Regions from separate parts of the Homo sapiens genome. Here regions 2 and 3 are each linked to region 1. The links come from fine-mapping of genetic effects on gene expression. A gene starts in region 1. Each other region holds a variant in brackets. All regions are shown on one strand. Distances are between the middles of the regions. Region 1 holds the start of PANX1 (pannexin 1). Region 2 holds the start of LOC105369435 (a long non-coding RNA gene). Region 3 overlaps PANX1 (pannexin 1).

Region 1 (10,705 bases):
CACACACTCTCAAAGGATTTCTCAGACAGTTTGCAAGAGATAACGAAATCTATCCTTATTCTACAATCCCAAATAGACTCTTTGGCAGCAGCGACTCTCCAAAACGGCCGAGGCCTAGACCTCCTCACTGCTGAGAAAGGAGGACTGTGCACCTTCTTAGGGGAAGAGTGTTGTTTTCACACTAACCATTCAGGGATAGTATGATATGCCACCTGGCGTTTACAGGAAAAGGCTTCCAAAATCAGACAATGCCTTTCAAACTCTTATACCAACCTCTGGAGTTGGGCAACATGGCTTCTCCCCTTTCTAGGTCCCATGGCAGCCATCTTACTATTACTTGCCTTCGGGCCCTGTATTTTTAAACTCCTTGTTAAATTTGTTTCCTCTAGGATCGAGGCCATCAAGCTACAGATGGTCTTACCAATGGAACCCCAAATGAGCTCAACTAACAACTTCTACCGAGGACCCCTGGACCGACCCGCTGGTCCTTTCACTGGCCTAAAGAGTTCCCCTCTGGAGGATACTACAACTGCAGGGCCCCTTCTTTGCTCCTATCCAGCAGGAAGTAGCTAGAGCAGTCATCACCCAATTCCCAACAGCAGTTGGGGTGTCCTGTTTAGAGGGGGGATTGAGAGGTGAAGCCAGCTGGGCTTCTGGGTCAGATGGGGACTTGGAGAAATTTTCTGTCTAGCTAGAGGATTGTAAACACACCAATCAGTGCTCTGTGTCTAGCTAAAGGTTTGTAAACGCACCAATCAGTACTCTGTAAAAACACAGCAACCAGCGCTCTGTGTCTACCTAAAGGTTTGTAAATGCACCAATCAGCACTCTGTAAAAATGCACCAATCGGTGCTCTGTGTGTAGCTAAAGTTTTGTAAATGCACCAATTATCACTCTGTGAAATGGACCAATCAGCGCTCTGTAAAATGGACCAATCAGCAAGATGTGGGCGGGGCCAAATAAGTGAATACAAGCTGGCCACCAGAGCGGCAAGCTGCTCAGCTTCCCTTCCATGCTGTGGAAGCTTTGTTCTTTTGTTCTTCACAATAAATCTTGCTGCTGCTCACTCTTTGGGTCCACACTACCTTTAAGAACAGTAACACTCAACACGAGGGCCCGTGGCTTCATTCTTGAAGTCAGTGAGACCAAGAACCCACCAGAAGGAATCAATTCCGGACACACTATTTTCCAACAAGTTCTCCATCTGGCTTCTATTTTAAATTCATTAAAAGTAGGATAACATCATATGGAATGTAAAAAATTGCCAAAACTGAGGGCAATTTATGCAACTGCTGAGATTCACTCCAGATCCTCAGAGGAACTTGCTATGTAATGAAAAAAGAGATACACAATCCATCATCCCATCACAGGAGGCAAAATGAACTAACTTCTAGGCCAGAGGAGAGAGTAACAAGGGAGGGAAGGATTCATTACAACTGGAGGATCCTGGAAGGCTTCCTAAAAAGGGGGCATTTGAGCCTAAAAAGGGGCCATTTGAGCCTATCGGATGATTAGCTTTTGGCAAGGAAAGAAGGGAAATGGCACCCATGATTTCCTGACTCCCAGAAAGCCCCTGTCCCAGCTCTGAATGTCCCAACTGACACATTCTCCCAGGCCCTACTTATTCTCTGCACCTCCCTTGGTATACCCCACTTTTCACAATAATCACTCTTTCTACCTTGCATTATAGTTAATTGTGTGCATGCCTTATTTCTCTTGCTAAGCCATAAGGTCTTTGAGGAAATGGAATCCATTCACTTCATTTCTGCTTCCCCATCCACTGAGCCCAGAACTGGCCCATCACCAGCCTCTAATATATGCCTGGAATGTATGGATAAATGAGTGTGAACTGGGCCAGTTTTAAAAAGTGTTCAGATTCCTTCAGACATTTATTTAATAATATGAATTAAAACATCAACTCTGTGTGAGGCATTTGTGCTAAGTGTTGAGGATAAAAGTGGTACACATGGGCATGGGCCTACCCTCAAGAAGCCGATCACATAAAGTGGTGGCAAACACTAAATAAATGAATAAATATTTGTTGAGTTGCAATGGTGACTATTTTTAAGAAGGAAAAATAGAGAACAATGACAGATGAAATGTACCTAGATTCACAAGGTGCCAGGCACTGGGCACTACCCACGTGTTAACTCATTTGGTCCTTATCACAGTCCTAAGAGGTACAACCTTTTTACAGATGAGAAAACTGAGACACAGGAGAGTCAAAGAACTCCCCAAGACTAATAGCTAGTAACTAGTGTGGCTAGTATTATGGGAGAATTTCACAAAGGGACCTAATCTAGTCTGTCTACTTAGGGAAGGCTTTCCCAGGGAAGTGACATCAAGCTGAGGCCAGAAGGGTGAATAAAGGTGGGCCAGGCAAAGAGGCCACTGTGGGGAGTGTTTTGGGTGGGAAGGCCTGGAGGAGGCCAAGGGCTTAGCTAACTTGAAGAACTGAAAGGAAAGCAGTGAAGCTGGTGGTGAGGTAGGCAGAGGCCATGCTAAGAAATTTGTATTTTATGCTAAAAACAATGTACACTTTAAGTAGAAAAGATGATCCGACTGGAGTTTTGAAAAGCTCATCCTGGCAGCTGTAGAGGAGAATGGAGGGGGACCCTGTCTCACATATTTCCTATATGTGGTTAGGAGACAGGATGGTGAGTTGAATTGGGTATTGGCAGTGCAGGTGGAGGGGTGTCAGATTTGCTATATTTAGGAGAGAGAAGCAAGAGAATTTGAAAATTGGTTATGGCAGCTGTGAGAAATGGAGTGTTGAAGATGGTGCTCCAGGATTCCGACTTGGGTGCACAGGTGGCTGGTGGTACATTTAGTAAGATGGGGAAGATGGAGTTCAGGTTTAAGGGGAAGATGAAGACTGAAGTCCTGGCCGTTATGAGTTTGAAGCCCTATGAGCCATCTACGCGGAGAGAGCTGTATACGCTCTTGGATGTGTGTTTAGCGGCCAGGCTGGGGTGGAGAGGTACATGTGGGAGTTGAGGCTTGTATCTGTGGACCCACAGAGAAGGGAGCCAAGCCCTGCCCCAAGGAGCCCTCATGTTTGCAGGTCCTGCCTGCTTCAAATGTTACTGGTGATAACCTACATGTCACATTTGACAGGGCTTCCAAACTAAGCCATCTAAGAAAGGTCTTATGATTCATGGCTTAGATCCTGTCCCTGAGTAAAAAATCTTACTGTGAGTCCTTCAAATCCTTTTGTCAGTTCCTCAAACTGCTGATGTACTGATTAGTATGTAAAATACTGACATTGAAAAGAACACTGACTTGTTTCTGAATCATATAAACTTTGATTTTCTTGTGCACAAAACATTTTAGCCTGTATGTTGTCATCTGCAGCCAGTGACTGTAACCTGTGTACCATACCCTCCGATGAAAAAAATCCCACCTCTGATATAAGGGGTCCTCCTCCCTTTTCCTAAACTTTCTTCTAAAACCCTTCCAACGTGTAACAAATTTTGAAACATGCCCAACTTTGCTGGTAAGTCTTCTTGGGTGGATCCTCACATTTAGCTTCCAATAAATCAAATTATTTCTACTTCAACAGCCTTAATTTCCGTGGACACTGGTCAGAGTATTTCCTCCTGTCTTTCCATCATCCACTTCCTATGAGCTGTTCAGAAGCAGCTCTCTGCAGCCCCAACACCCACCTACCTGCAGGCCCCCCTCTCTCTGCTGGCTCCCGGAACAAGGCTCTGATTGGGATGGCAGAGGAAAGAGAAACGGGACCAGCAGCGCTACTCAGGCCTCGAAACTCCACACTCACTACCGTTTCCGCGCCACCCTCTCACGCGGAGCTCCTGGAAGGGTCCAGCGCTCCCTCTGCAAGGCACCGTCGGTCTACACCGCTCGATTGGCCTTTTATGGCACTGACTGTTCTTTGAAGCTTTTGCAGCTCCTTCTAACCCGATTTCACCGTGTTGGAAATGTTGGGGGTGGGGCGTAAAGGGGGCCATCCCATCCACAGAAAGAGTCGCTTGCAGAAATGATTTTAAAACTCCCGGGTGCCAGGACGTGAGGAGAATCCGGCAGGGAGGGACGGGAGAATTTCCAAAGGTGCCGCTCAGTGGGAAAATCCCTTTGTCAGAGAGTGGCCCGAGGGGCGCGGAATGCAGCCGCGCCCACCCCGCCCCGCGTCACCGCGTCTTCCGGAAGCTCCACGCCCCTGGGTACTTGGTTTCCCCGCATGGTTCCGGAAGAGCGCGGCGCAGCTGGCTGTGAGCGCAGGGCTATCCCGGCGGCCGCTTCGGCAGCCAGGGCGGCGCGGAGGGGCAGGGCCAGAGGGAAGCGCTTTGTTCCGCGCGTGGTTCCCGCGCCTGGGGGTGCGCGGGAGAGGCGCGAATCCGAGTGCCGCGCGCGGCCCGGGGACTTGCACGGGCGTGCGGGGTGGAACCGCAGGAAGCGGAGCTCTCGGGTTCCCGCCCCGCCCCGCCCCGCCGGCGGCGGAGGCAGCGAGCGCGAGAGCCCAGCGGAGTCGCTGGGAGCCTGAGGCACCGAGACACAAAGGCAGGCGGGATGCGGGAGCAGGCAAAGGGAAAGCGAAAGCCGCGCGCCCGGCCGGTGACTGGGTGAAGGCGCCGCGCAGCTTTCCCGACGCCGGCTGTACCCGGACCTCCTGGTCGAGCCTGGCGCGCCGCAGCCATGGCCATCGCTCAACTGGCCACGGAGTACGTGTTCTCGGATTTCTTGCTGAAGGAGCCCACGGAGCCCAAGTTCAAGGGGCTGCGACTGGAGCTGGCTGTGGACAAGATGGTCACGTGCATTGCGGTGGGGCTGCCCCTGCTGCTCATCTCGCTGGCCTTCGCGCAGGAGATCTCGATTGGTAAGCCTCGCCCAGGACGGAGGGGAGTGGCCGCCCCGGTCTGGCCCGGTGAGCTGCGATTTTACGGCTCACAGGCCCGAGTCTGGGTACGCCCAGCTGTGATGGTCGTGAGCGTCAGGAAGGGCAGTGGCCCCAGTTTTATGGTCCAAAGCGTTCTTTGCCCAGGTGTTTCATTGGTACCCTGGTCTACTCTGCTCGCATCCCTACTCCTCAGTTCTTTTGTTCCTCATGCCCCTCTGATCGGACTGTGGCTTATAGTTTATGTTCCACCCTTAGAACTGGCACCTTGCCACCAGATTTGCCAAGAATAGCTGTGTCCCCGTTTTTCACCCCTGTCTCCTACATATTTGTCCAGCCGCCTAAAATTTTACACCAGAGAAGTTCCTGAGTGGCTACATGGAGGATGTGAAGACCGGTGCTCCATGAGAAGTGTGTTCTTTCAGTGTCTTACATATAATTGGTATTTGCTGAGATCTTAGCTCTCTAGGGTTGTGAATGATAGGAAATATCTGCACTTGGCAGGCATTAGAGGGATCCTCAACTTGGACGGTCTTACAAATGTGAGATGAACAAGTCCCCTTCCTGTAAATTATCATTTGAGCTTCATAACAGTTGTGTGAGATTGGAAAGTCTGGTGGTTTGGGCAGGATCACGTGGCTACGTGCCTTACCTTCCTCATCAGCTGTTCTGACTCTCCACACAGGAGAGAGTGTTTATGAACCAACAGGAAGGTAGCGCAGGAGGGTTAAATACAGTTCTGTGGCAGGGGAAGAGAGAGGACCCAGTGCGGCTGGACTTTGGGAAAACTTTTGTCAGAGGGTGGGTGGGATTTGGACAAGAAGGAGTAAGACCTTTGTTAAGGTTTTGAGATGGCAGAGAATGTTATATGTTCCTGGAAAGAGAGACACAGTGACTCTCCTAGCCAAGGCAGGAGGATAAGTCAGAGTTCCTGGAGTCTGAGAGTGAATATGGGCCTGGGTCAGCCTGGAACAGAAGAGTGTAGGCTGATGGTTTCAGAACTGTGAAGTTATTGTTTGAGCAGAGGACAGACTGGTTGAATGATGGTGGCATTTAGGGTCTGGGAAGAAGGTGAGAGGATGGGGCCTGGAGGGCTGGGTGCCAGAGAGCAAGGCATCGGCTGAGGTCTTGTGCACAGAGGGTGTGAAGAGTGGAAGAAAATGGGTGGGTGATTGCTGTGCGATCAAGGAGTAAATAAGCAGCACTTGAGTACCTAGTATTTAATAGGCCATGAACGGCAGTACTGGTCAAACGTGCTGCGGAGGTTGTATGTCTGGGTGAGTGGAGTGTGGTGTTGGTGGTGATGGGAATTGTGAAGTTGAGGGAATAGTTGATTAGGAAAGAATGACTATGAGTGTGATTTTGCAATCTGCAGCACTAAGTTGTTCAGCTTGGCAGGAAGTTGCCAAATTCATTGTGGAAAATAGTTTTTAGTTTTCCTGCTCTTTGCGCAGGCATAGTCATCGGGATGTTCTTTAAGTTTCCATTTGACAGTGGATTGAGGCTTCCAGCTGAAAGCAAAACCACCAAGTAGCATGAGTCCTGGAGATAATCTCTCCCTTTGGTCAATTCCTCCTTCAGTACTGGCTGTGTGCTGAACTCGGTGCTGACCTCCAAGGACCCGGGAGTAAAAGAGGCATGATCCCTGTCTTGGAGGTGCAAGTCTTGGGTACCTGGTTGGGACAGAAAGGCAGGAGGAAGGAGTTAGTCACCCTCTGTGACCAATCTCCACCTCTAGCACATGTACTAGAGGGACTCCTAAGGCACCTGTACCTGTAATGCCTTAGATACGTCTAAATTGGTGGGCTGTCTGAGAGGTATTTTTGGGGTATTGGGAGTGGTTTTAACTAGCAAGAGTTTGAGCTCATGCTGTGTGCATAGCACTGTTGTGTGCTGAGGGAGATGGGAAAGGATTTTGAGACCTTGTTCTTGCCCTGCCCTCTCCCTGCCCTGTGGCAGTTTACTATGCAGTTGGGCACTAGAAGGTATCTGTTAGCAGGTAAGTCATTCAGCTGTGTGTAATTCAGCACCCAGCCAGGTGTTGAGCTATGAGCTCCAGGCTGGTGAAGGTTGGCAGGCACTTGGGTGAGGAGCTGTCAAGCAGACTCCCATGTTTTCTGAAGTGTTTTCAGGAGTTCCAGGGGAGGACAGACATGTGGGATGAAGCTAACAGGACCAGGGAAGACCTATTAGATTAGGTATACATTTAGATAAAACCAGAAGAAGGGCTTTTGAGAAGAGGGGAGAGGTACATAGATTAATACATGGAGTTGGTACAGTGGGAGGGATCATGTCATGCAGCATTTAATTTTGTGTAGTTAGTAGTATGCACTCAGCCAAAAACAAACCAAAAAAAAGAACAGCAATAAAGGGAGAATGAAGTAATTGAAATGGAGCTGGCACTTTGCCCACCATATTGGCCAGTGAACTCAGGCCCCGGGAAGACACTGAGATAAGGCCTGCAGACTTAAAACATGGCTTCATCCTTCCTCTGTTGATAATTACTGCTTCCCTCTCTGGTGCTTGGAATACTCTTTTGTTGAACTTAACACAGAGCTTTATAACCTGTCTATGCATGTTTTGCATGGAGATTGAAACTACTCTATAAACATTTGTTGTGAATTAAAGGTGATAGCTTTTGGCATCATCAGACCTTGCTAATTGATTGTTATGTGCATGATGCTGTACCTTGGCAATGGGGTGTCAGACACACGTAGGACATAAGAATCTTTCCTCTGGAAGCACGGTCTAGTAGAGAAGTTGAACGCATAACCCTCCTAATGCAGGATTCATGGAACCTGGGCAGTGTCAGAAGTGTGTACTAAAGCCTGATGCTGTGGAAAGGCAGAAGGAGGGGTTTCTTCTGACTCATGAACAGTGAGAGTTTCAGGGCAGAGTTGGCCCCTGAGGCAGGATTCCAAGTGTGTGGAGCAGTGTTGGCTGAAGCTGAGACGTGTGAGACAACATGTGGCTGCTGGAGCTTTAGTGGCACCGTCACATGGAGAGGTGGGAGCCAAAGTAAGGGTCCAGGGGCTCCACATGAAAGAAGGCATAGCAAATCCCATTGTTTTCCTGTTTGTGTTGGGGGGGTGGTGTGTGTGTGTATAAAATTAGAAACGAGAAAATCAGCTGTAATTACATGTTTTTCCTTTTTCCACCTGTATGATAAACTAGTATATATAAGAATTCATCTCTTTTGATATAAAATCCCCTCAAGCGTAAAATAAATTATATTTTCCAGTTACTTTCCAAAAATTAAATTTTCTGTCAACTGTTGTTTGATAAAATAGGGTTCAAGTTGAAACTTTGTGGCGATTTTTCCTTTAAATAAATGATTTTTTACTTTAAAGAAAATCTATTAAATCAAGAAATGTGCATGGATTGTGCTTTAGATTTAAGAGCAGGTTCTCTGTGGGGGTGGGAGTGTTGTAGGTTAGAGAGAGGGAATGTCCTCATATGATAAAATACTTGGCTTCATATTAAAGGCTTCCGTTTGGTCTTTGGCCTTTTCTCTTAGTAGTTCAGCCCACTGGGCTCCTCTCAGAAAAGAGGGACTGAGCCTGCCTGGGCCACAGAGACCCATGGGCATAGCAGCAGGCTGATCTTTATCAAGCCCTGCTGGGTGCCAGCATGGTGGCTGCAGGTGAAGCGTCCACTCCTCAGAGGTTCTGGCCCCTTCCCTCCCACAGCAGTTCACGCAGGTCCTGCATGGTAGGCACTGGTGTGGGGCTACCTGGGCTGGTGGGGACTGTGTTGGGGACAGAGAGCAGAAGGGACTCTGCCTTGCTCATTCACCAGATCTTGGTCTGGCTGCCCACAATCACAGGTTGAGGGTCACTGCAGAAGTGATGTGGTCTGGAGGGGCATGGCAAGGCTGGTGCCATGGTCAAGGTGGAGGCAACTTTGGTAGTCTTTGCGGCAGCCACTCATTGGTCCAGATGTGCCCTGTGATAGTGAGAATTACAAGCAGAAACCCTCCTGAGGGAGTGGCAAGGAGACTCTTCTGAGTTGTGCCTGGGAGCATTTTGAAGGCTTTTGGACAGTGAGATACTAAGGATTGAATGTAAGAACTAAAATGTGCACCTGTCTGGTTAGGCCTGATACTTCTAGTCAGCCTTTCTAAAATACTGCAGGTGTGCCTCCTCTGAGATTCAGCTGGGTAGGGGGAAAATAAGTGACACACAGCAAAAGACAGTTTAATTGTGAGTTTGGGCTAGAAAGGCTGTGTGGTGGGAGCCAGAGAAGGGAGAATCAGTGGTTTCACCAGCCCTCATTTTTCCTTCCTCTTGTCTTCTACCATGTCTTGCCCTCAACAAGTGCTCCATAGGAATTTAGTGAAGGAAGTGCCAGAGCACACTAGGGAACTCTCCCAGAGTGGCTGTGCTGAGGGAATGGACGGAGTGTTCTGGATAAGGGTCCCAGTTGCTTGGAAGTGCGCCCTCTGAGTGCCATTTAATGATACAAGTGCTGTCCTGGGTCAGGCCTGTCCTGGCCACCTCCCAGACACCTGCCTCTGATGATAGCAGTAAAGGATGCACATCGTCATGATAGGTAAGTTGTCCCACTTGATTTATAAGCTCAGGTTATATTGCGTGTGCCTCAGATTCTTTTTTATGTTATTTTTGTGATGAGGAAGAATCTGTGTTCAGAGTGCAGAATGGTGTACTGTGGAAGAAGGATGAGTGTGATCTGTGTGGCTTGGGTACCCTATGGGTGTCACCTTGTGCAAGCTGCTGGGAGACAGTGCCTTGAGGCCCTTCATTTCTAACACATCTACTCTCAGATGCCTCTAGAAGTGCTGCACATTTCATTGATGGGGGGAGAGGTTTAGGAAATGGCTGGGCGACAGCTTTGTGTAGAATATAAGCATGATTGCATGACGTGACCTTCAAGCTCTGAAATTCTAGAAGTATTTCTCTAAAGTTATGAATTCCCTTAGTGTGCTGCAGTTATGGACTGAATGTTTGTGTCTCCCAACCGCAAAATTCATATGTCGAAGTCCTGATCCCCAATGTGATGCTAATTGGAGATCCCTTTGGGAGGTAATTAGGTTTGGATGAGATTATGAGAGTGGGACCTTCATGATGGGATGCCCTTAGAAAAAGAAGAAATCCCTCTTTCTCTCCCCCCTCCCTCTTCCTCTCCCCCCTCCCTCTTCCTCCTTCTCTCCCTCTTTCCCTCTCTCTCCCACTACCCCCCTTCCTCTCTTCTTCCCTCTTCCTCTCTCCACAAGTGCGGCCACAAGGAAAGGTGTGTGAGCACGCTGGGAGAAGGGGGCCATCTGCAAACTAGGAAAAGAGCTCTCACCAGACACCGAATCTGCTGGTACCTTGATCTTGAACTTCCCAGGCTGTGAGAAAATAACTGTTGTTTAAGCCACCCAGTCTGTGGGATTTTCTTACAGCAGCCTGGTTGAAGACAAAACTATCAACAGACCAGACTCTGAATGGGATTCATGTTTAAGGGGTCTTTTGACAGGGCCTCCTGTGCCCTGCGCTTAGGGCTGTACAAGGCCTGAGGCGTCAGGGGCTGCTTTGATTCCCTGGTGCCTCATGTGGCACATATCCCCTGGGAAGGAGAGCCCGTGTCTCCTGCCAGGATGTTTCTGGCTGGCTGGACCAGGTGGGGAGCTGGGGCAGCCAGTAGTCTACTAGGGAAAGGGTGTCTGGTCAGCCGGGGACCCTGCCTCCCTCACCCACTGACCTCTTAGTGGGCAGCCACCGTTCTGGGTAGAGAAGGACTTAGTCTTTCTGAGTTAGCACTGCTCTTTTGCTATCATTACAGGGCAGGCATTGGGCCAGCCCCAGTGAGTCAAAGGATAGATATAACTGCAGCTGCTTCCAATATAGT
Region 2 (10,705 bases), 69 kb after region 1:
AGCAAGCCTCTGGGGTCATGGAGTTTGCTGGGAATTATGGTGGCAAAAAGGAAAAGGAAGACCAAGAAAGCCTAAAGCTTTGTTTCCATCTATAATTTCGCCTCTCTGAGCCATTTGCCCAGTGAGGGGCTTGGACTAAACAACCTCTAGAATCTATTGGTCTGTGTCTCTGTGGTCTATGTCTTCTTTCATCGTGTCCCACACTAGATCCCTGGGAATCCAGATGGAAAGAAGGAAGGAAATTAGTATTTGTTGAGTGCCTACATGCCAGGCATTAAACAGTGCATATTAGCTCATTAAATCTTCACAATCCAGTGAGGATGTTCCTTTAGTTTTGGGGTGAGGGACATTAAGGGAATGGGTTCTCAAGACAAGCTGCCTGAGTTCTGGCCTGAGGCTGCCCGCTGACCTGCGTGACCTGAGTTCTTGACTCCTCTGGGCCTTAGTTCCCTCCTGTATGACAGAAAGTCATGGATTTTGACGAGGGCTGAAGTCGATTAAACAAAGGCAGTAAACGTAATGCCGGCACATAATAAACACTCAATCCCTCAGTCTTTTTTAAGTCTAGCAGCATTTTCTTTATTCACATCGTAAGCCATGTTTGAAAAACGAGAAAATCCCAAACTATTGGAGCATTACAGACAGGCGATTTAGCATATTGAGAAAGCCCAATTTGAGTTTTGATATCAGAAAATCTGGTTTGGAGTCTTAGCTCTAATACTTCCAAGAGGTGACCCAGTGAGTCACTTAAAATGTTTTCCCTGTACCAGTGTCTACTCCTCAGGGTTGTTGTGAGGATTCAATGAGAATGATGTACCTGGCACTCTACAGGAGCTCAACAATAGCTATTTATCTTACCTCAAATAGAAACCCATTTACAATAGTTAAGTGAAAAGGACATCATTTCGAGCTGCTGCTCAGAACCCAATGGAGGCGAATTCAGCTGGGAAAGGATACTGGAAAGGCTATTGCTAAGACAGAAAAACTCGACCTCATCCAAGAGCAGCGAGACACCCTACCCTCAACCCCCAGGTTTTGTCACTGGGCCCTGTGTGAGTGGCAGCAAAGATGGCAGAGTTGTGAAGGTGCCGTGGGCATTTTTGGAATGACTCAAGAACATCTTTGACTCAGCACGGGCAACAGCCAGATGGACCTTGTGGGTGTGAACCTCCCGAGCATTTGGAGCGGAGGCTGGAGAAGCTACCCAGGGAACCCCAGCCCCCAGGGCCATTGTGCAAACCCGCGTGGGCACTGCCGGAGACACACACTCTGCCTGCTTCAGCGCTCCTCTCCCCGGGCCAGGGCTGCCAGCTCATCCTGCCCTGCCTGGCTGGGGTGGCAGAAGGTGAATCCCAAAACAGGCCACTGGCTCCTCTCATTTTCTACTCCTTTCTCTTTTGTCATTTATTAGTTTTAGTTTTAATTTTCAAAGATGATGCAAGCTATTGATGAGTATACATTTATTGCAAAAGAAAATCGGATAATATAGAAATATAGTCATGCATCACTTAACAATGTAGATACAGTCTGAGAAATGCTTCTTTATGTGATTCTGTCATGTGAACATCGTGGAGAACTTACCCAAACCTAGCTACTATAACCTAGATCGTATAACCATATGATGCAGCCTATTGCTCCTGGGCTACATACCTGTACGGCATGTTACTGTACTGAATTCTGTAACACAGCATTAAGTATGTGTGTATCTATCAACTCTAAACGTAGAAAAGGTGCAGTAATACCTTAAAAATAAGGTATGTTGTATGTGCAGTCTGTCCTCAACCGAAATGTTATCACTATGCAATGCTTGACTGTCTATGGAGTGAGGGTCCTCCATGCATTGCTGCCTTTCATAAGCCCAGTCTGGACTGCCCAGCAGAGTCACGGTTATCACCAGAGTGTCCACCTCCTTGCTCGTCTTGAGGTCTTATACTTTGCACCAAGCTGCCTTGGTCACCTGTTTAATGATTTTAGGACTGAATTGTTTCAGAAGGGAAAGAGCATCATAATTTTCTGACACATATTTAAGCATATTTTTCTATCAACATGTAACATTTTGGTCAAGTGCCACTAGTTTGAGGAATTCTTTTTCAACTGGATTTAAAGAGGCTCTGAAGGCCAGCAGATGCAGTTTTGCTGCACAACTTAAAGAACTTCCTTGATCTTCTAACAACACAATATTCAACCAAGAAATAATGATAATATCACTTACTCCAGAAGACTCTTGTGAGGGTTAAAAGAGGGAACAGATGTCAGCAACTACAATGCCTGGCACAGGTGAAGCCTAATATTAGTTCTGGTTATTTTATTAGAATCTGTTGTTGGCCTTACAGTAGAACTCTCAGTAATTTTTTACCGTATTTTCATGTTTTATTTTTTTATTTTTTTATTTTTGAGATGGAGTTTCGCTCTTGTCGTCCAGGCCAAAGTGCAGTGGCGTGATCTCGACTCACTGCAACCTCCACCTCACAAGTTCTCTCTTCTTAGCTCACCTCCACCCTGGGGTCCCCTCTTTCTTCCTGCAGCCCCCAGAACAAGCCGACAACCAACCTGCCCTCAGATAACTCCCCATCATGTCATCAGAAGAGACATGCACTCAGGTGGTGGTGCACAGGCTTAGGGGGCAGGCGGGAAGTCTCCTGGCCCTAGGAAAAGTTTCCTTCACAAAGCACCTGCTGTGGTAGGTGCTTTGCTAAAGCACACAGTCTAAATGAACTAGTTTACCCCTTACTATGTAATAATGAGTAGGTTGGCACCCTCCCCAGAAGAGTAAACAGAAGCCTGGGAGCTCCATGACCTGCCCAAACCACACGGCCAGGATCTAATCCTGGGCCAGCCTGACTCGAAAACCCGAGTCATGTCAGTGCTAACTGTGACCAGAGGACTGCTTGCATCAGAATATGTGGACATGCTTGTTAAAAAGGCAGATTCCTGGGCCTCTCCACAGACCCACTGAGTCAGGACCTCTGGGGCAGGGCCTGGGGATGTGCATTTATCACACCTTCCTGGTGACTCTGAAACATACCAACATCTGAGAATCCCTGCCCTGTGCTGTACTGCCTGCCTGTGCACTGAACCAGGGGGACCCAGCAGAAGACAGCTAGGAGAAGGGGAAGTTGTTCCAGAAGGATCAGAATCTGTCAACACCTGTTTATTAGGAAGATCTAGTGGCGTTTTTGGGAACCAAAGGAACAATGAAGGTCCCTGAGGACACCCCCACTATAGGCCATGCTAGAGGCCTGGTGCCCTGCACACATTTCTAGCTCCTTTCACCAGTTCCAAGAAAAGACAGTGTTCTGAGAGGGCACGTACATTCACAGAAGCAACAAGGCAGCACCAGCTGTGGCCCACTGGACTATCTTGGCTTCCCACCCTGACTCAAGGGCTGGGCATCCCTGATGGCCCTGTGCACCCCACCCCCATGAGTGTAGCCCACCCTGAACTGGGGCTGAGTGCTGCCAATGTGGTTGGCCCTCTGATAGGGTTTGGCTGTGTCCCTACCCAAATCTCAACTTGAATTGTATCTCCCAGAATTCCCAGGTGTTGTGAGAGGGACCCAGCAGAGATAATTGAATCATGGGGGCTGGTCTTTCCTGTGCTATTCTCGTGATAGTGAGTAAGTCTCACGAGAACTGGTGGGTTTATCAGGGGTTTTCGCTTTTGCTTCTTCCTTATCGTCTCTTGCCACTGCCATGTAAGAACTGCCTTTTGCCCTCTGCCATGATTGTGAGACCTCCCAGCTATGATGGACTGTAAGTAAAATTAAACCTCCTTTTCTTCCCAGTCTTGGGTATGTATCAGCAGCGTGAAAACGGACTAATACACATCCTTAGTTGGAAGGGAGCCAGAGGGGTCAGAAACATCCTTTATGGTGGAGGGGGCACTTTATGTTGGTTGTCTAAGTGAGTTTGGGCTGCTAGAACATGAACACCACAGACTGGGTGACTTAACAGAAATGTATTCCTCACAGTATGAAGTCTGGGAAGTCTAAGATCAAAGTGCTGGCTGATTTGGTTGTTGGTGAGAGCTCACTTCCTGGTTTGTGGAGGGATGCCTTCTCACAGTATCCTCACGTGACTGAGGGAAAGCTAGCTCACTCCCTGGCTGCTCCTTAAAAGACACTCATCCCATTCATGAGGGCTCTACCCTCATGATCTAATTACCCCCCAAAGGTTCCACCTCTAGACACTATCACATTGGGGATTACAGCTTCAAAATATAAATTTTGGTGAGACACATACATTTGGTCCATAGCACTGACGTCGTCTCATTTTGTAGTCCAATAGCAGGAAAAAGAGGGTCAATTATCCCCACTTTATAGATGAGGAAGATGAGTTCTGAGACAGGGTACGGAGGTAGAGTAGAGGGGGAAAGAAGCTAGATGAAGGGCGTCATATCCCCTAATTTGTCCTGAGGTAGGGAGGGGGAGAGCTGGTAGCTGTCACATGAGTGGTCACTATATAGACAAATAGTGGGGCCCACTTCCAGGGCAGGACTCAGAAGCACTAGTGGAGGGTCCAGTCCAGAGAAGGGACTCCACAAATGATGCCGCTGTAATTATTGTCTGATCATCTATTCATCACACATTTTCTGAGTACATCCTCTGTGGTGAGCACTACTCATATGTTCTTTATCATCCTCATGGACATGACACCCCACTTGGCCTGCGGTGGCTGGAGACCTGGGGAGGAGTCATATCACAGCTTTTAGACCCACTCTGACATCGAGGTTAAATGCAACTTTAGGGCCAGCAAGTACAAGCCTTATTCTGCCACTTACTAGCTGCAGGGCCTGGGGTGGCACTTGGCCTCCCAAGGGAAGGTGCTCTTTTCCCCATTTTACAATTGAGAGGACAAGATATGAGAGGTGAAAATACAGACCTCCCTGACTAGAATTCATTCTCCCAACCACCATGCACACTAGTGTTTCCCAGAGGTGGTCC[T/C]GCAGGCTTCAGAATCTTGTGAGGTGTTTGGAGAGTGATTCCTGACCCCTCCTCCGACTCAGTAAATCTTGACAGTGAGGCCCCAAAATATGAATTCTTCACAAGCTCTGAAGGTGATTCTTATGTGTGTTGGGGCTTGAGAATTGGCTCTCCTGCCTCCTCATTTCCAGTCTTTAAACAGGGATCTGCACAGCAGCAGGCAGCAGAAGTAGGCAGCGCTCTGGAAATACAGTTGGCAAAAGCTCTCTCCCTTAAAACTAACAGGGAGAGAGCTAACTCCATGACTGGCATGACATCTGTGAACAAAGGAAGTGACAGGGCCACCAAGAACTGCTGTGGGCCAGTGAGAGCAACAGAAGACCAGGTCCTAGCCTTCCCTGCTGAGAACTTTACCCATTGCCTAGTGAGAAGGAACTGGAGATGCCATCAGAGCTGCATCGTAGTAATGCTGGTAGATTTCAATTTTTACAATTTATATTTGTTATGAATGTATTCACCATTCCTTAGAGTATGTTTAATTATCCTCAGTCTTTGTTCTGCTTTTAAAATCCACATTGAAAAGGCAAAGTGACATGTGCTTAAGAGGTCTTTAATAAATACTTTGGTCAAGAACAGGGAGGGGGTAGTTTAATTCCTCCTGATTAGACCCGCCTACTTCCCGGCCATCTGAAATTTAAATTTAAGTAAAAGTCAGTATGCTTTCTAAATAAATGCAGTTTCACAACACAACCTTTAGCCCACACTCAAGCAACTATATGGCTGCCCCTAATTCCTCCTCTATTGACATTCAGGAGCTGCCAGGGTTTCTGTAAAAGTACCTGAACACAGTGGATCAACCAACAGTGGCTCTGGGGTTTAGAGTTTTGAGCAGCAGCTCAGAATGATATCCATCTGCCTTTCTGAATCACAGCCAACTTCTGGCCTCTCTGCACAGATTTGGTGCAGGAAACTAGCCATACCCACGCCCACACCCACAGCTCGCCCCGTGCCTCCTTCATCTTCATAATTCTGCTCCCACCCTCTTCCCTCTTCCTTGCCCTTCAAGTTGCAACACTGAACTGAGTTTATGGATGATGCTCAACAATTTATTGTTGATTAACTGATTGATTGATTCTGTTGCTATGGAAACCATCAGATTCTAGTACAACAGTGGGATTCCTTCCTGACTTTATGCTTGACAAAATGCTGACTCTCTGTGCTTGCTTCTCCCAGCTTGCCACCTCCATCTGGGTCAGGAGGAGCAATTGGAAGCAGAAGCTCCAAGAGAAAGGTGGGAATGTTGGTAAACCCAGGTGAAAAAAAGCAACAAGGAGGGTAAGTGGCCCTGCAATGTGGAAATTTCCATCAGAAGCAGCCTACACAGTGATTATAAGTGTCAGGGCTTTTAGATCAAGCTATACCTGGGTTCAAATCTCACTTCCTCCACTTATTAGGCTTAAGGTTAATTAAGCCTTTCAGCCTTCATTTTCTCATTTGTTTTAATTGAGATAATACTGTGCCTTTAGGTTGCCTGGAGAAATTACGAAATGATACAAGGAAGTTAGAAAGCAGAGTGCCTGGTACCTACGGGAGCCTTGCCCAGGCCAAGAGGGATGCAGACCTCCCATTTTTTAAGGCTCTTAGATAGAAAGTGAATAGCAACAATATTACATAAATTGAGGAAGAGCTTTATGTATACATTTTTTTGAATTATCACTTTTTTAGTACAAAAATACAATGCAAGATTATAGGAATTCTAGAAAATATTAATTCAAGGTTCCTCATGACTCTGTGTCTAGAAATTAGACACAAAGTCTGAATGATAAATATCTTCTTCTCAGGAAATCTTTGTGATTTTATTTATAAATTGTTTGAACATGATGTCATAGTCGAAACTTGTGGTCCTTTGTGACTGAGCTGCCCAGCATTCTGCCTCAATAAACCTCCCTGGACAGGGTAAGTGTTCATTTAGTGATGGCCACACCTGTCATCCCAGCACTTTGGGAGGCTAAAGTGAGTGCATCACCTGACATCAGGAGTTCGAGACAAGCCTGGCTAACATGGTGAAACCCTGTCTTTACTAAAAATACAAAAAAAATTAGCTGAGTGTGGTGGCGGGCACCTGTAATCCCAGCTACTCAGCAGGCTGAGGTAGGAGAATCACTTGAACCTGGGAGGCAGAAGTTGCAGCGAGCCAAAATCAAGCCATTGCACTCCAGCCTGGGCAACAAGAATGAAACTCTGTCTAAAAAAAAAGAAAAAAGAAAAAAAAATTAGTAATTTTCAGCATCATCATAATGTCTCCAGTGAAGCTGAAACCACCACACATACTGCAGATGGAGTTTTGTCACTGTACACTGCACAATGATAGGGACCCCTGGGGCACCTCCAGACAGCATGAAGGTGACTGACCTCCCTGTAGACTAACCTCCTAGACCCTGTGCATCAGTGTGACGAGTGCATGCATTTCATGACTCAGTTCAAACGGCAGCTCCTCTTTGAACAGGACCCTGGCTGCTCACTCATAGTAATGCCCTTTTGTGTACTCCCAGTGCAGTTTATTTATACATCTGTTTAATAATTACCAGATGCTTCCAGTGTTCCCTTTGCCCCCTTGGAGTTAAATTCTTCCCAGCCCTTTTGGAGTTAAATATGGCCACATGAATTTGATGAAGCAAACATGAGTGAAAGTGACATGCTCCTTACGAGCTAAGGCACAGTGTACTAGGGTTCCTTTCCCTCTGCCACAGCAACCAGCAACAGCTGCTATGTCAGCCTGGGCCCTAGAGTGAGAATTATATGAGTGGAGGCCATGAACATTTAGGACAAGGTTTGTTGATTAAAAACACTGAAAGTTGTCGATTGTTACTGTAGTATTAACTGACCTATACTGATTGATACATTCTGTTTTAGACTGACTGTATTGTAAAAATTCTGTTTATATGTTTGTCTGTCCTCATAACCAAGAATTTTTTAAGGGTACAAGCTGTGTCTTACTCATTTCTGATTCTGGAGCTTCCAGCACAGTGCCAACATGCACTCATATATACATAATGGATGCTTATTAATATGTGTTGGCTAGACAAGTAAACTTTAAGTGCGGTCTGTTTGAGATATCACTACATTCATTGATGGCTTCATGCCATTGCCACATCTATGCTTTTTTGGAATAAGGTCTTCATATTCCATTTCTTTATCACTTCTCGTCCTGTGGTATAAGAGGTCGTCTACCACGACATCATGGGTTATTCCCACATCTTCAGCAACTCTCCTGATTGTTTCAGACATCCATTCATCCATCCATCCATCCAGTCTTCCATCCATTCCTTTACTCATTTATACATATGTTCATTTATTCATCAAATATTGTCTGAATGTCCACTGTGTGCCAGGGACTGTGCAATAGGCTGGGAATATGGATATGCATAAAATGTATTTATCTCTCTCTCCTCTCCATCTTCCCTTCCCTGTGAAGGGACAGCAAGAAGCTCCAAAACAAAGGTGGAAATGGTGGTAAATCTGGATGAAAAAAAGCAATGGAGACGGGAGATGAGGGCACCTGTGATGTGGAAAATTCCATTAGAAGCAGCCTACACAGTGATTATGGGTATTGGTACTTTAGGCTCAATCTAGACCTGGGTTCAAATCTCAGTTATTTCACTGATTAGGCTTAACTTTAGTTAAGTCTTTTACTTTCTGTGTCCTCAATTGTAAAATTGGAATAATATCTGTGCCTTTAGGTTGCTAGGAGAAATGAATGAAATGATACAAGTAAGGTAGAAAGCAGAGTGCTTTCTACAAGCCAAGAAGTGGCCCCCCAACAGATACCAAGCTCTGGACCTCCTGGTGCCTTGATTTTGGACTTCCCAGCCTTTTTCAGACCTGTGAGAAAGTAAGTTTGTTGCTTAAACCACCCAGTCTCTGGTATTTTCATTACGGCAACATGAACAGACTAAAGGGAAAAAAAGACAAGCAAACAGATGTGAAAAATGCATTATATAACAAAAAATGGTTGTCAATGCTAAGTCTAAGTTGTTTTTATGAACAAAACCTTTCAAGTTTGAAAAATACTTCCCTAGTCTAATCATCTTGTTTTTCAGACAAAGAAACTGAGGATTTGCTGGGTCAGGGAAGCAACCTTTTGCTTAGAACTCTGCTAGGTGGCTTAGGGTGCTTGAGAATCATGAGGGTCTGACCTAACCCAAGAAAGACAAGCAGTTAGGACTAGCTCTCAGCCTAAGTTTGTCAGTCTGGCTTTCCAGATCCGCTTCCATGATACACCACTGAGGGTTTTTTGTGGAAAAAAAAAAGTCAGGGGCCAAATTGGTACCATTGAATATGCTAGAGCAACATCTATTAACAGACCACATGCAGGTCTAATGAAACACTCCCGGGGGGTTGTGTTCTCTCTGTTTGTGTATCAGCTAATAGGAGCCCTGACTGTCACAGGGCCAGAATGCATGTGGATGTACCAGCTGCACCTATGTGTGTTGGGGTGGGAGAGGTTTTCAGGGCTTGGTTAAGCTGCATAGGCCATGACCTTGTTCCCTGTGAGGAAGCCAGAGTGTCCTAGTGGATAGAGGAGTATGGCCCTTGTCCTGGACAGATTTGGGTTCAAATGCTGAGTCAGCCACTTAAATATGAGCGTACTGAATTTCCCCATCTGTTAAATGCAGATAACAATGTAAGTTTGTTGATAAGCGCCATTGAATAATTTACATAAAGCACAGAGGCTAGCCTATGAAAATCCACACTATATGGCAAATGTTATTGTTCCCAATGTCATCGTTAAATAAGATAACATATACAAAGTTATCAGGCCAGAGGGTGCTCAAAACAAATTATTTATTGTTTTTATTATCAATATTATATACAAAGCATGACATTCTTAATAAACCAGCTTTGGGATGTCAGCAAGTTGACAGAATAGAAGCTTTCTACTGTTATTCTTTTGCAGAGGCATCAGTTTTGACAAGTACTCATGAATAGTGGGAGTCTGGGAGTCCAGTGGAGAAGTTTTTGTTTTTGTTGTTTTTGAGATGGAGTCTTGCTCTGTCACCCAGGCTGGAGTGCGGTGGCACGATACCAGTGGAGAAGTTCCAGCACACTGTTGGAGAAAAAAATCTGAGAATAGATGCATGAAAAGAGTAAGAAGAACAGTTTTGGCCAGGTGCAGTGGCTCATGCCTATAATCCCAGCACTTTGGAAGGTCAAGGTGGGAGGAGCACTTGAGGTCTCAGGAGCTTAAGACCAGCCTGGGAAACACAGTGAAACTCTGTCTCTACAAAAAATGTTAAAAACAAAACAAAACAAAACTTAGCCAGGAATAGTGGCATGTGCCTACAGTCCCAGCTACTCAGGAGGCTAGAGCAGGAGGATCACTCGAGCCCAAGAGTTCCAGGTTACAGTGAGCTATGATCACACCACTATACTCCGGCCTGGGAGATAGAGCAAGACCCTGTCTCTTAAAACATAAAATATACAAAAAGAGTTTCACATTACGCACATCACCTCTCCTCTATGGTGGCATAGCTTGGTGCCAAGAGACACCCCCACCCAGTCCCATTTCTCCCATAGGGGAAAGTAAGAGCATAGTGAGTGACCATCCATCTCTCCCAGTCATGCAAGGTGCTGCCAACGAGGCCCACCTCTTTCTTACCTCACCTGTATTAGTGAGGTGATCAGCAAAGCTGACAGGCTGGGAGAGTCTGGGAGCAAGGAAGAGATGTTGTGTACCCTACTAACTGCTCCATAGATTCCATCAGGAAGATTGCCCATGAGCTG
Region 3 (10,705 bases), 38 kb after region 1:
GGTCTCACTTTGTCACCCAGGCCTGAGTGTAGTGGCACAAACATGGCTCACTGCAGCCTCAATCTCCTGGGTGTAAGGCAGTCCTCCTGCCACAGCCCACCAAGTAGCTGGGACTACAGGCATGCACCACTGCATGTGGCTAATTTTTGTTATTTTTTGTAGAAATGGTCTCAAACTCCCGAGTTCAAGAGATCCACTTATCTTGGCCTTCCAGAGTGTTGGGATTACAGGCGTGAGCCACCACACCTGGCTTATTTTTCTTACTTTTTATTTTAATTTTTAAGTTTTATGGTTACATAATATTTGTACATATTTGTGGACTACATGTGATATTTTGATATAAGCATAGAATGTATAATGAGCAAATCAGGGAATGAAAGTGTTAGAAGTGGGCATCCTTGTTCCATATCTTAGAGGAAAGGCTTTCAGTTTTTCCCCATTCTTTGTGACACTAGCTGTGGGTTTGTTGTAAGTCTTCTTTATTATATTGAGGTATGTTCCTTCTGTACTCAGTTTGTTCAGGGTTTTTATCATGAAGGGATGTTGACTGTTACTGAATGCTTTTTTGGCATCTATGGAAATGATCATATGCTTTTTGTCCTTCATTCTGTTGATGTGATGTATCAAATTTATTGATTTGCATATGTTGAACTATCCTTGCATCCCTAAGATAAATCCCACTTGGTTGTGATGAATGATCTTTTTAATGTGTTATTGAATCAGTTTGCTAGGATTTTATTGAGGATTTTTATATCTGTGTTCATCGGAGGTATTGGCTTATAATTTTACTTGTCTTTGTCTGATTTTGGTGTCATGGTTAAGACTGGCTTTATAAAATTATTCCCTCCTCTAAGGATGGTTTGGAATTATTCCCTCCTCAGTTTTTTTGAATACTTTAAGTAGGGTTGGTGTTAGTTCTTTTTTAAAAGTTTGGTAGAATTTAGCAGTGAAGCCATCAGGTCCTGGGCTTTTCTTTGATGGGAGACTTATTATTACTGCCTCTCCCTTGTTACTTGCTATTGGTCTATTCAGGTTTTGTATTTCTTCATGGTCCAATCTTGGTAGGTTGTATGTGTCTAGAAATTTATCAATTTTTTTTAGGTTTTGCAATTTATTGGCATATCGTTGCTCATAATAGTCTTTAGTGATCCTTTGAATTTCTGTGGTATGAATGATAATGTCTCCTTTTTTGTCTCTAATTTTATTTATTTGGTCTTTCTTTTTTTTTTAGTCTGGCTAAAGGTTTGTTGATTTTGTCTTTTCAAAAAACCAACTTTTAAATTTTATTGATGTTTTGTATTTTTTTGGTTTCAATTTTATTTCTGCTCTTTAATAGTCTACTGAATTTGTGTTTGATTTGCTCTTGCTTTTCTAGTTCTTTAAGATCTGTCATTAAGCTGTTTATTTGAAGTCTTTCTACTTTTTTGATGTAGGTATTTATTGCTTTAAACATCCCTGTTAGTACTGCTTTTGCTATATCCAGTAGGTTTTGGTATGTTGTGTTCTCATTTTCATTTGTTTCAAGAAATTTTTAAACTTTATTCTTAATCTCTTCATTGACCCAGTGGTCATTCAGGAGCATATTAATTTCCATGTGTTTAGTTTCCAAAGTTTCTCTTGTCATTGATTTCTGACCTTGTGGTCAGAAAAGATACTTTTATGATTTCAATTATTTTGAATTTTTCGAGACTTGTTTTGTGGCCTAACATGTGGTCTATCTGTGAGAATGTTCCATTTGCTAAAGAGCAGAATGTTCTGCAGCTATTGCATGAAATGTTCTGTAAATGTCTGTTAGGTATATTTGGCCTACAGTGTAGCTTGAGCCTGATATTTCTTTATTTTTTGTCTAGATGATCTGCTCAATACTGAAAGTCGGGCGTGAAGTTCCCGACTATTATTATATTGGGCTTTATCCCTCTTTAGCTCTAATAATATTTTCTTTATATATCTGAGTGCTCCAGCATTGGGTGCTTATATATTTACAATTGTTACACCCTCTTAGTGAATTGATCCCGTTATCATTATATAATGACTTACTTTTTATCTTTTTACAGTTTCTGTATTGAGATTTATTTTATCTGATACATGTATAGCTATTCCCGCTCTTTTTTGGTTTCTGTTTGCATGGAATATATTTTTCAGCCCTTCATTTTCAGCCTATATGTGTCTTATAGGTGAAGTGAGTTTCTGGTCAGCAGCGTTTGGTTGGGTCTTGGTTTTTTATCCAGTGAGCCATTCTTTCTCTTGATTGAAGAATTTAGTTCATTTACATTCAATGTGATTATTGATAGGTAAGGACTTACTACTGCAATTTTGTTATTTGTTTTCTGGTTGTTTTGTTAGTTTCTCTTTTTTTCCTTTTTCTCTGTCTTCCTTTGTGTATAAATGATTTTTTTGGTAGTATGTTTTAATTTCTTGCTTTTTATTTTTATTTATTTTTTTTAATTTTTTAATTTTATTATTATTATACTTTAAGTTTTAGGGTACATGTGCACAACGTGCAGGTTTGTTACTAATGAGCAAAATAACCAGCTAACATCATAATGACAGGATCAAATTCACACATAACAATATTAACTTTAAATGTAAATGGGCTAAATGCTCCAATTAAAAATTCTCAGCTTTTTATTTTTTGTGTATCTATTATAGGCTTTTACTTTGTTTGCCATGAGGCTGCACATGAGGCTGTGATTGGAATTAAGTTATCTTCCGTTTAAAATAATTGGTTATGTGGCCGGGCACAGTGGCTCATGCCTGTAATCCCAGCATTTTGGGAGGCCAAGGCAGGCAGATCACATGAGGTCAGGAATTCAAGACCAGCCTGCCCAACATGGAGAAACCCTGTCCCTTCTACACATACAAAATTAGCCAGGCATGGTGGTGCATGCCTGTAATCCCAGCTACTCGGGAGGCTGAGGCAGAAGAATCACTTGAACTTACCAAGAGGCAGAGGTTGCAGTGAGCTGAGATCGCACCATTGCACTCCAGCCTGGGCAACAAGAGTGAAACTCTGTTTCAAGTAATATAATAGTAATAACTATTATTATTATTATTGGTTATGTTATTAACCAATTATTTTAAACTGAAGATAACTTAATTCCAATTACAATGAAAATAAAAAAACAAGCCAAAAGAAAACTAAAAAGTTCTGGACTTTAACTTCATCCCCCCCTCGCTTTCGACTTCTTGTCACTTTATATCTTTTTATATTGTGTATCTCCTAACAACTTGTAATTATGATTATTTTTGATACGTTTACCTTAGGGTCTTCATTTTAAGGTATGAGTGGTTTACATACCACAATTACAGTGTTAGAGTATTCTGTATTTGTCTGTGTACTTACTTTTACCAGTGAGTCTGTATTTTTAGATGATTTCTTGTTGCTCCTTACCATCCTTTTCTTTCAGACTGAAGAACTCCTTTTACCATGTCTCGTAAGACAGTTCTAGTGTTGATGAAATACCTCAGCTTTTGTTTGTCTGGGAAAGTCTTTATTTCACCTTTATGTTTGAAGGATAACTTTGCTGGTGATGATATTCTAGGTTGGAAGCTTTTTTCCTTTAGTGCTTTGAATATGTCATCCCACTCCCTCCTGGACTGTAAGGTTTCCACTGAAAAGTCTGCTGCCAGATATCTTGGAACTCTTTTATATGTAATTTGCATCTTTTCACCTGGTGTTTTTGGGATCCTTTCTTTGTCCTTCACCTTTGAAAGTTGGATTATTGTATTCCTTGAGGTAGTCTTGCTTGGGTTGAGTCTTCTTTGTGTCCTTTAACCTTCTCATACCTGCATATTATATCAGGCATCTATCTGGTGCTTTATTTTATTGTGACTGAGCCTGATATCTAAGTTGCAAGACAGTATCCTCTGTACTCTTTCCTCTCCTTTGCCCAAGTTGAAAGATCTCTCCCCAAGCTGCACTGCTTGGAGTTGGGAGAGAGGTGATGCAGGTGTTCCCATGGCTGGTACAGTTAATGTCGTACTGGGTCACATCCCAAGCCCACTGCTTCTAAGACCAGTGCAGCACCAGGGCTTGTCCAAGGCCTACAGTTACTATGTCCTGATTGGCACTCAGATTTATTTGGGGCCCTAAGTCACTTTAGTCAGTTGGTGGTGAAGCCAGCAGGAGTCACTTTTCTCCCACTGGGGCAGAAGATTCCCCTCTGGCCCAGGGCTGGTCTAAATGCTTCTTTTGTGGGACCTGGCAGAAGTCTGCCTGGTGTTGTGTGAGGCTTTGACAAGGCAGCACTGAGTTCCAGTGCAAAGTCGCATACTCATTTTGCTCTCCCTCCTTCAAGCACACGGATTCTTCTCCAGACTGCACTGCCTGGGTTTAGGGGAGGGGTGGTGTAAGCAGTGCAAGACCGTACTTCCTACTCTCTTCAATGCCACTTTCGTTGTTATGTTAAAACCAGGTACAGTGATTGCTCCTCTGATTTTTTAGTTCTTAGGAGGGTGCTTTCTTGCATGGATACTTTATATCTTTTTATATTGTCTATCTCCTAATGGGGGTCAATCATTGGAGGGTTCAATTCAGCCATTTTGCTCTGCCTCCTCTTATGTACTGTCAAATTCTTGCTCAGGTTTTTCACATATGATATTCAGCACTCACTAGGAAATAACTAGATGTACAAGAAAACCAAGAGAAAAATCAGAAATAGAAACAAACCTGTTGGAGATCCAGATAGTGGATTGATCAACCATGCATTTTAACTAATCATTAATCATATATTCAAAGAATTATGATTATATGGAGATTTTTTACGTAGAACTGACTGAAAACTGCACCAAAATAATCAAATAGAAATTCTTGAGCTGAAAACATTTAGTCACAGTTGATTTCAGCTAACGTTGATTGAGGGCCTACCATATGCTGGAATGTATGTGCAGTGGCAGAAAGCCACAGATGACATGGTCCCTTCATCAAGGAGCTTGTTGTTTAGTGGAAAAAATAAACATGGAAGAAGGCAGTGAGAGGGAATAATCAGCTAAATGGTAAAAGGAGAGTGTTTCAGACAGTAGTGAACTCTGTTAAATGCTGCTGCAGAGAAGCCAGTGCAGTCTGGGAGAAATACAACTTACTGGATTTAATGAAAATATTGGGGATCCAGCAGGAATGATTTTAGTGGAGAAGTGGGAGGCAGATGGCTGTGGTGAAGAGTGAATGGGAGGTAAGGAAATGAAGATGATTAGACAATTTCTTCACAATTTTTTTTCCCTTTTCATAAACTCTCTCTTCCTGATAACCAGAAGAGAGAGGAACAAGCTGGGTGACAACTGGAAGGAAAATACAGGCCCAAAAGCACAAAAAAAGCACTGTCTGGGAGGGTGGGAAGCACTTTCTGGGGGAGGCGTGGCCTGTTGGGGGCATTGGGGCCTTGATTAACTATGATGCAGGGTAGGCTAGGTTACAGGGGACTTTGAAAACTAACCAGATGGATGGGCTAAATGCTGGGGACAGCGGGAGCCATTGCAG[G/A]TACCTGAGCAGGGTGAACTTGGCGGTTCCAAGAGTTAAGCCTCAGTAATGGTGTACAGGAGAGAATAGAGGCAGGGAGAGCCACTTGGTAAGCACAGAGTGAGGGTTCTAATTAGGGAACAGAAAGGAAAAGAAGCAGTTTTGTCCAAGAAGGCAAAGAGCAAACAAAAAGCAATACTCTTATGTCTTATTGCTGATTAGAAGATCACGCAAAAGGATAGTCGAAAGTGACATCAAGGGCCTAGACCAGGGTCAGCAAACTTCTGCAGAGGGCCAGATCATAAAGTTTTTTTGTCATTGCAGATCACATGGTCACTGTCGCAGCTACTTAGTTCTGCAGAGTAGACATGATTGCTTGTGGCCAGATTTGGCTCAGGGGCAGCAGTTTGCTGATCCTTGGTCTAGAGTGACAGCAGTTGAGATCTAGGGTGACAGCAGTGGAGGTGGGAAGTGCATCTTTTCTAAGACTCAGGGCATCTTTTCTAAGATACGGAAGTAACAAGATGTGCTGATTGGACATGGGAAGATGAGAGAAAGATCAGGATTAAGGACATGACCAAGGTTTCAGGCACCGGATGGAATGACACCTTCATGACACTTGAAGAAGCCTGGTGAAGAAGCAGATTTTGGAGGAAAATCAAAGAGTTCTGCTTGAACATGTTGAATCAGGTGCTGTGGTCCAGATGATGTGTCAGGTGGGCAGTGAGATATGGTATCTGGAGATTGCAGGCTAGAATAGAGCTATAGATATGGCAGATTGTCAGAAAATAGATAGTGTTTAAAGCTATAGGAGTGGATGGTGTTTCTTAGGGGGTGATTATATGTAGACAGGGGCAAGGTCTGAGGGCTGCTCCAACATGGAGAGAGGGTGGGGTAGGACCAGTCAACAGAGGAGACACAGAGAGGTGGGGTGATGAGGAAAGTTAAACAGTGTGCTGTATGCTTGAAAGGCAGGGTATCTTGTAAAGAAAGATGGTGTCAATGTGATAACCTGTGTCAGATGCTGCCAAGAGTGCGAGTAAGGTGAGGACTGAGACTTAGGCTAACTCTACATTTGGGTGGTATCATGGGCTGAATTGTGTCCCCCAAAAGATATGTCGAAGTTTTAACCCAGTGTGCCCTAAACTGTGACACCTTATTTGGAAATATAATTATAGCAGATGTAATTAGTTAAGATGGGGTCTTACTGCAGTAGGGTGGGCCTTTAACTCAGTATGACTGCTATCCTCATAAGAAGAGGGGAATTTGGACACAGACATGCTCAGAGGGAAGACAACATGAAGACACTCAGGGAGAAAACAGCCGCATGCCCACAGGGGGCTGGATTGGAGTTATGCAGCCAAGCCAAGGAATGCTGGGGCGACTGGAAGCTGGAAGACGCTGGGAGGATCCTGCCATGGAGACTCGGGAGGGAGCATGGCCCTGCTAGCACCTTGATTTTGAACTCCTCACCTCTAAAACCATGAAAGAAAAAATTTCTGTGGTTTTAAGCCATCAAATTTGTGGGATTTGGTTGGTAATGCCAGGAGTTAGAGAGAAATGAAGATTCAGCCTAATTGGAGAAATAAAACCTATACCAGATAGGAATATTAGTGCATGGCTTTCTTAGGCCAGATTCAGTAATCGCAGCTGCTTTATTTCTACGTTGATCTCTTTTTCAAGTTTTTCTTTTTCTTTTTTGATAAAATATACATAACATAAAATTTACCTTTCTCTTTGTAGGTATATAGCCCAGTGGCATTAAGTACATTTACATTGTTGCGAAACCATCGCCATTACCCATCTCCTGAATTTTTCATCTTCCCAAACTGAGACCTGCATCCATTAAGCAGTAATTTTCCATTTCCCCATCCCCCCAGCCCCTGGCAACCTCCATTCTGTTTTCTGTCTCTCTGCATTTGTCTATTCTAGATACCTCATATAAGTGAAACCATACAATATTTGTCCTTTTGTGTCTGGCTTATCTCACTGAAGAAAATGTTTTCACAGTTCATTAATGTGGTGACATACATCAGAATCTCCTTCCTTTTTAAGACTGAATAACATCCCATTGTAAATTTGTACGAGATTTTGTTTATCCGTTCATCAGCGCATACTTGGGTTGCTTGCCCTTATTGGCTATTGTGAATATTGCTGCTGTGAACATCTGTTCGAGTCCTCACTTTGTTTCTTTTGGATACATACCCCAAAGTGGAATTGCTGGATTCTCTTTCAAAGATGAAAAGGTTTTCTTGTGGCTTCTCCACACTGAGCAGACTCGGGACTGTTAAGCTGTTAGGGTCCTCTCATTCAGGCTCCGAGGGCCAGAGTGATCAGTGCCTTTTCTGAGGTCGCACAGCCAGATGGCAGGTGAGCCCACATCCTTCTTCAGATTTCAGACATGTTTCCCATGTGAGAAGGTCCAGTTCTAACTTCTGTGGCTTGAGAATTCTGGACTGTAGCCTGTAGGTGATGGTCACCTGCTGATGAGCTGCAGTTCAACACAAGGAGAGTCTTTCTGGCACAATTGCTGTCCAGCAGGGGAGCCCACTGTTGACCCAGGAGTTCCTTAGTTCAGCGTGCTCATGGACTTGCGTAATTTCTTCCCATGCCTGTATTTCTTACCTTGCTACTGTTTCTTCATAGAAAACTCAGTTCCTTAGCTGTTCTGGATACTGGCTATGCCTTCCCCATGCCCTCCTCATTGCTGTCATTCTCCCAGTCACCCCTCATTCATTCAGGACTCAGTCATGCTCATCCTCCTTCACCACCCCAAGGTGACTTCTGTGTCCTCCTGGATGGCACATCTAGCCTCAGTCTCTGTCTCATCTGCAAGAACTTTTACCTCCTTTCCATTTCCATCTCCATCATGAGTTCCTGTGGCCACCTCATTCTGAACTTGCTGTCACTTGAAACTAACTTCAGGCATCCCACTCCCTGTCTCTGCCTCCTGCCCTCCAAGGCCTTCCCCAAGCACTTTCAAATAAAATGGAAGCTTGACATGAAAATATCTTGCCATAATTCTGCTTTATTAATTCTTTATCTCTTAAGACTGTAAGCTTTATGCAGGCAGAGACCATGACCATGTCTTGTTTATCCATGTACCCCTGAGACAATGCGTAGTCCATAGTGGGTGCTTGAAGACTATATGCGGAAGGGAAGAGGGCAGTGAGGTAGTTGTGTGTCCTGTTCAGAACCAGACTTGGTTCTCCAGGAGCATCCTGACAAAGGATGGGGGATTAGAGGCACAGGGTTTATTCAGCACTTCTCAATTTAATTCTGATGCTGAAGTTAGGAGAGCTCAGTTACCCCAAAGAAGTTATTCAGTGTAATATTTAAGTCAGCACTGGTATGACACTGGTATGATCAATGGTGTCATTTTTCTCCAACCGACTTTGATTTCTCCCTGTCTTCCTCCTCCCTTTCTCTCCCACTCCATGCACTACTGATGACCTCTAAGGACACACTGTGAGGCCTTTGCTGGAGATGTGGGTACAGTCTCGGGGGGTGGGGGGCACCCAGTAGGTGGCGCTCTAACACTGCTTGAGAACTGGCTTTTTTTTTTCCTTTGAGTGTTCTGTTCCCTTTGTTCAAGTTTAGAATGCGGGAGGCAACTATTAGTAAGATTTCTCTCTGAAACAGGAAAGTCCGTTTTTGACTGAAAAAAACAATAAGAAAAACAAGAACAAAATTAGGAGAGTGGGCAAATCTTTATTTCTCTTAAGTAGACTCATAGAAACTTGGTTGGAGGAATCCTCTGAGGCTTTCAGACCAGAGGCTTCCAAACCTTAGCATTGCCAGAGTGGCCTTGTGAAAATTCAGGCTCCCGAGGCCATCTAGGCCATTAGGTTGGAGCTTCTGTGGTTAAGGTCAGGAATGTGGTTTTTATCGGCTTCCCAGGAGATTCTGATGTGAGCCCATCTTGCCGTACAATGTGGGCACCACCCATCTACACCATTTCTCAAATTCTCTGTGCATGCAGATCACCTGGGGATTTTGTTGAACTTTAGGCTCTGATTCAGCAGGTCTGATAGGGACCTGCAATTCTGCATTTATAACAGACTGCCAGGTGATAACTGAGGTTTGTGGTCTATGGACCACACCACTCTTTGAGAAGCAAGAATCCAGAGCCAGGGTTGGCAGACTAGGACACACATGCTTGAGCCAAATCAGTCCATACCTGTTTTTGTAAATAAAATTTTATTGGAACACAACTGTGCCCCATTTGTTCACACATTATCTGTGGCTGCTTTTGCACTATAATGGCAGAGTTGAGCAGCTGCAACAGAGACCATGTAGCTCTCAAACCTGTAATATTTACTCTCTGGCCCTTTACAAGAAAACCCTATGGACCCTTAATCTGGAATACTCAAGCTCTCCCAGATGATCACAAACTGTATTGAAAGGGAGCTCCTTGCCTCATAGGACAATTCATTGCATTTCATAGATCCGTGGGAAGGCTGCTCCTTGTCACTTGGTTCTACTTATCTTGGTAGGCATCTTTTCCTCCTTCTGTGAACAGATACTTTGCTCGCTGTCTTCTCCAGGGCTCTCCCCATGATGGGTTCCCTCCAGCTGCACTCCAGAATGTCACCCAGTGCAAACCACAGCACCTTTGGTGCTGAATAGAAGCCATGCCATCTGTATTTTCTGCCTTCTGTAAGCTTCTCAGGGAGTGCACATTAGCTTTCTGGGGTAGCTGTTCACTCTTGACTCCCGCTGTCTAGGATTGTCTGTAAGTGCGGTATTACCTGAACAGCATATAGCCAGAACAGACATCCTTCATGCATCTTTTTACTCCACTTCCCCAGTGCAGGATGTTCTTGGTTTACCTACTTCCTACTTTCTGACTGCTTTTCTCCATTTCTTCCAAGATTCTCTTTTTGCCTGACCCTTAAATGTTATAGGGTCTCAGGCCTGTTCGTGGTCTTCTGGTCTTCTCCTTCTGCCCATTCTCCTTGGATGATCTTAACCATACAGTTGGCTTTGACCACATATGTGCTGCCAAATCCTGAATTGTACAGCTAGATTCTTTTCCTTTATTTTCAGTTATCTACTACAGACCAGGGCGTTTTGACTGCAGGTATCTCATGTTCAAAATTTCTCATCTTCTCAGGTCTGCCTCCCACCTCACTCCCGTCTGCTCTGAATCTGGGACTCTTCATTTATTTCACCTGAAGGTTCCACCCCGTCATGCCCTTGCATGAGCTACACACCCGGCGTGATCCTCAGTTCTTCTCCTTTTCCGTC

Evidence for each region. PIP is the estimated chance that this variant, and not a neighbour inherited with it, causes the effect.
Region 2: its variant is the best candidate, but not a certain one, in a credible set for the expression of PANX1 in whole blood (GTEx, PIP 0.57).
Region 3: its variant is the best candidate, but not a certain one, in a credible set for the expression of PANX1 in esophagus mucosa (GTEx, PIP 0.81).

What each region holds. Positions count from the first base shown.
Region 1 is chr11:94,124,657-94,135,361 of GRCh38, forward strand. PANX1 (pannexin 1) reads left to right here and starts at 4,185. Exons shown (of 5, transcript NM_015368.4): 1 at 4,185-4,837. The coding sequence starts at 4,657. RefSeq lists enhancers at 4,118-4,177, 4,498-4,757, 8,577-9,076 and a silencer at 4,408-4,477.
Region 2 is chr11:94,193,736-94,204,440 of GRCh38, forward strand. LOC105369435 (a long non-coding RNA gene) reads left to right here and starts at 3,674. Exons shown (of 5, transcript XR_947901.3): 1 at 3,674-6,256; 2 at 8,662-8,813. The variant T/C (reference allele first, on the strand shown) is at 4,943.
Region 3 is chr11:94,162,897-94,173,601 of GRCh38, forward strand. The region is part of intron 2 of PANX1 (pannexin 1); the gene reads left to right. Among named protein-coding and RNA genes, the nearest start is that of PANX1, 39 kb to the left of the region's middle. The variant G/A (reference allele first, on the strand shown) is at 5,477.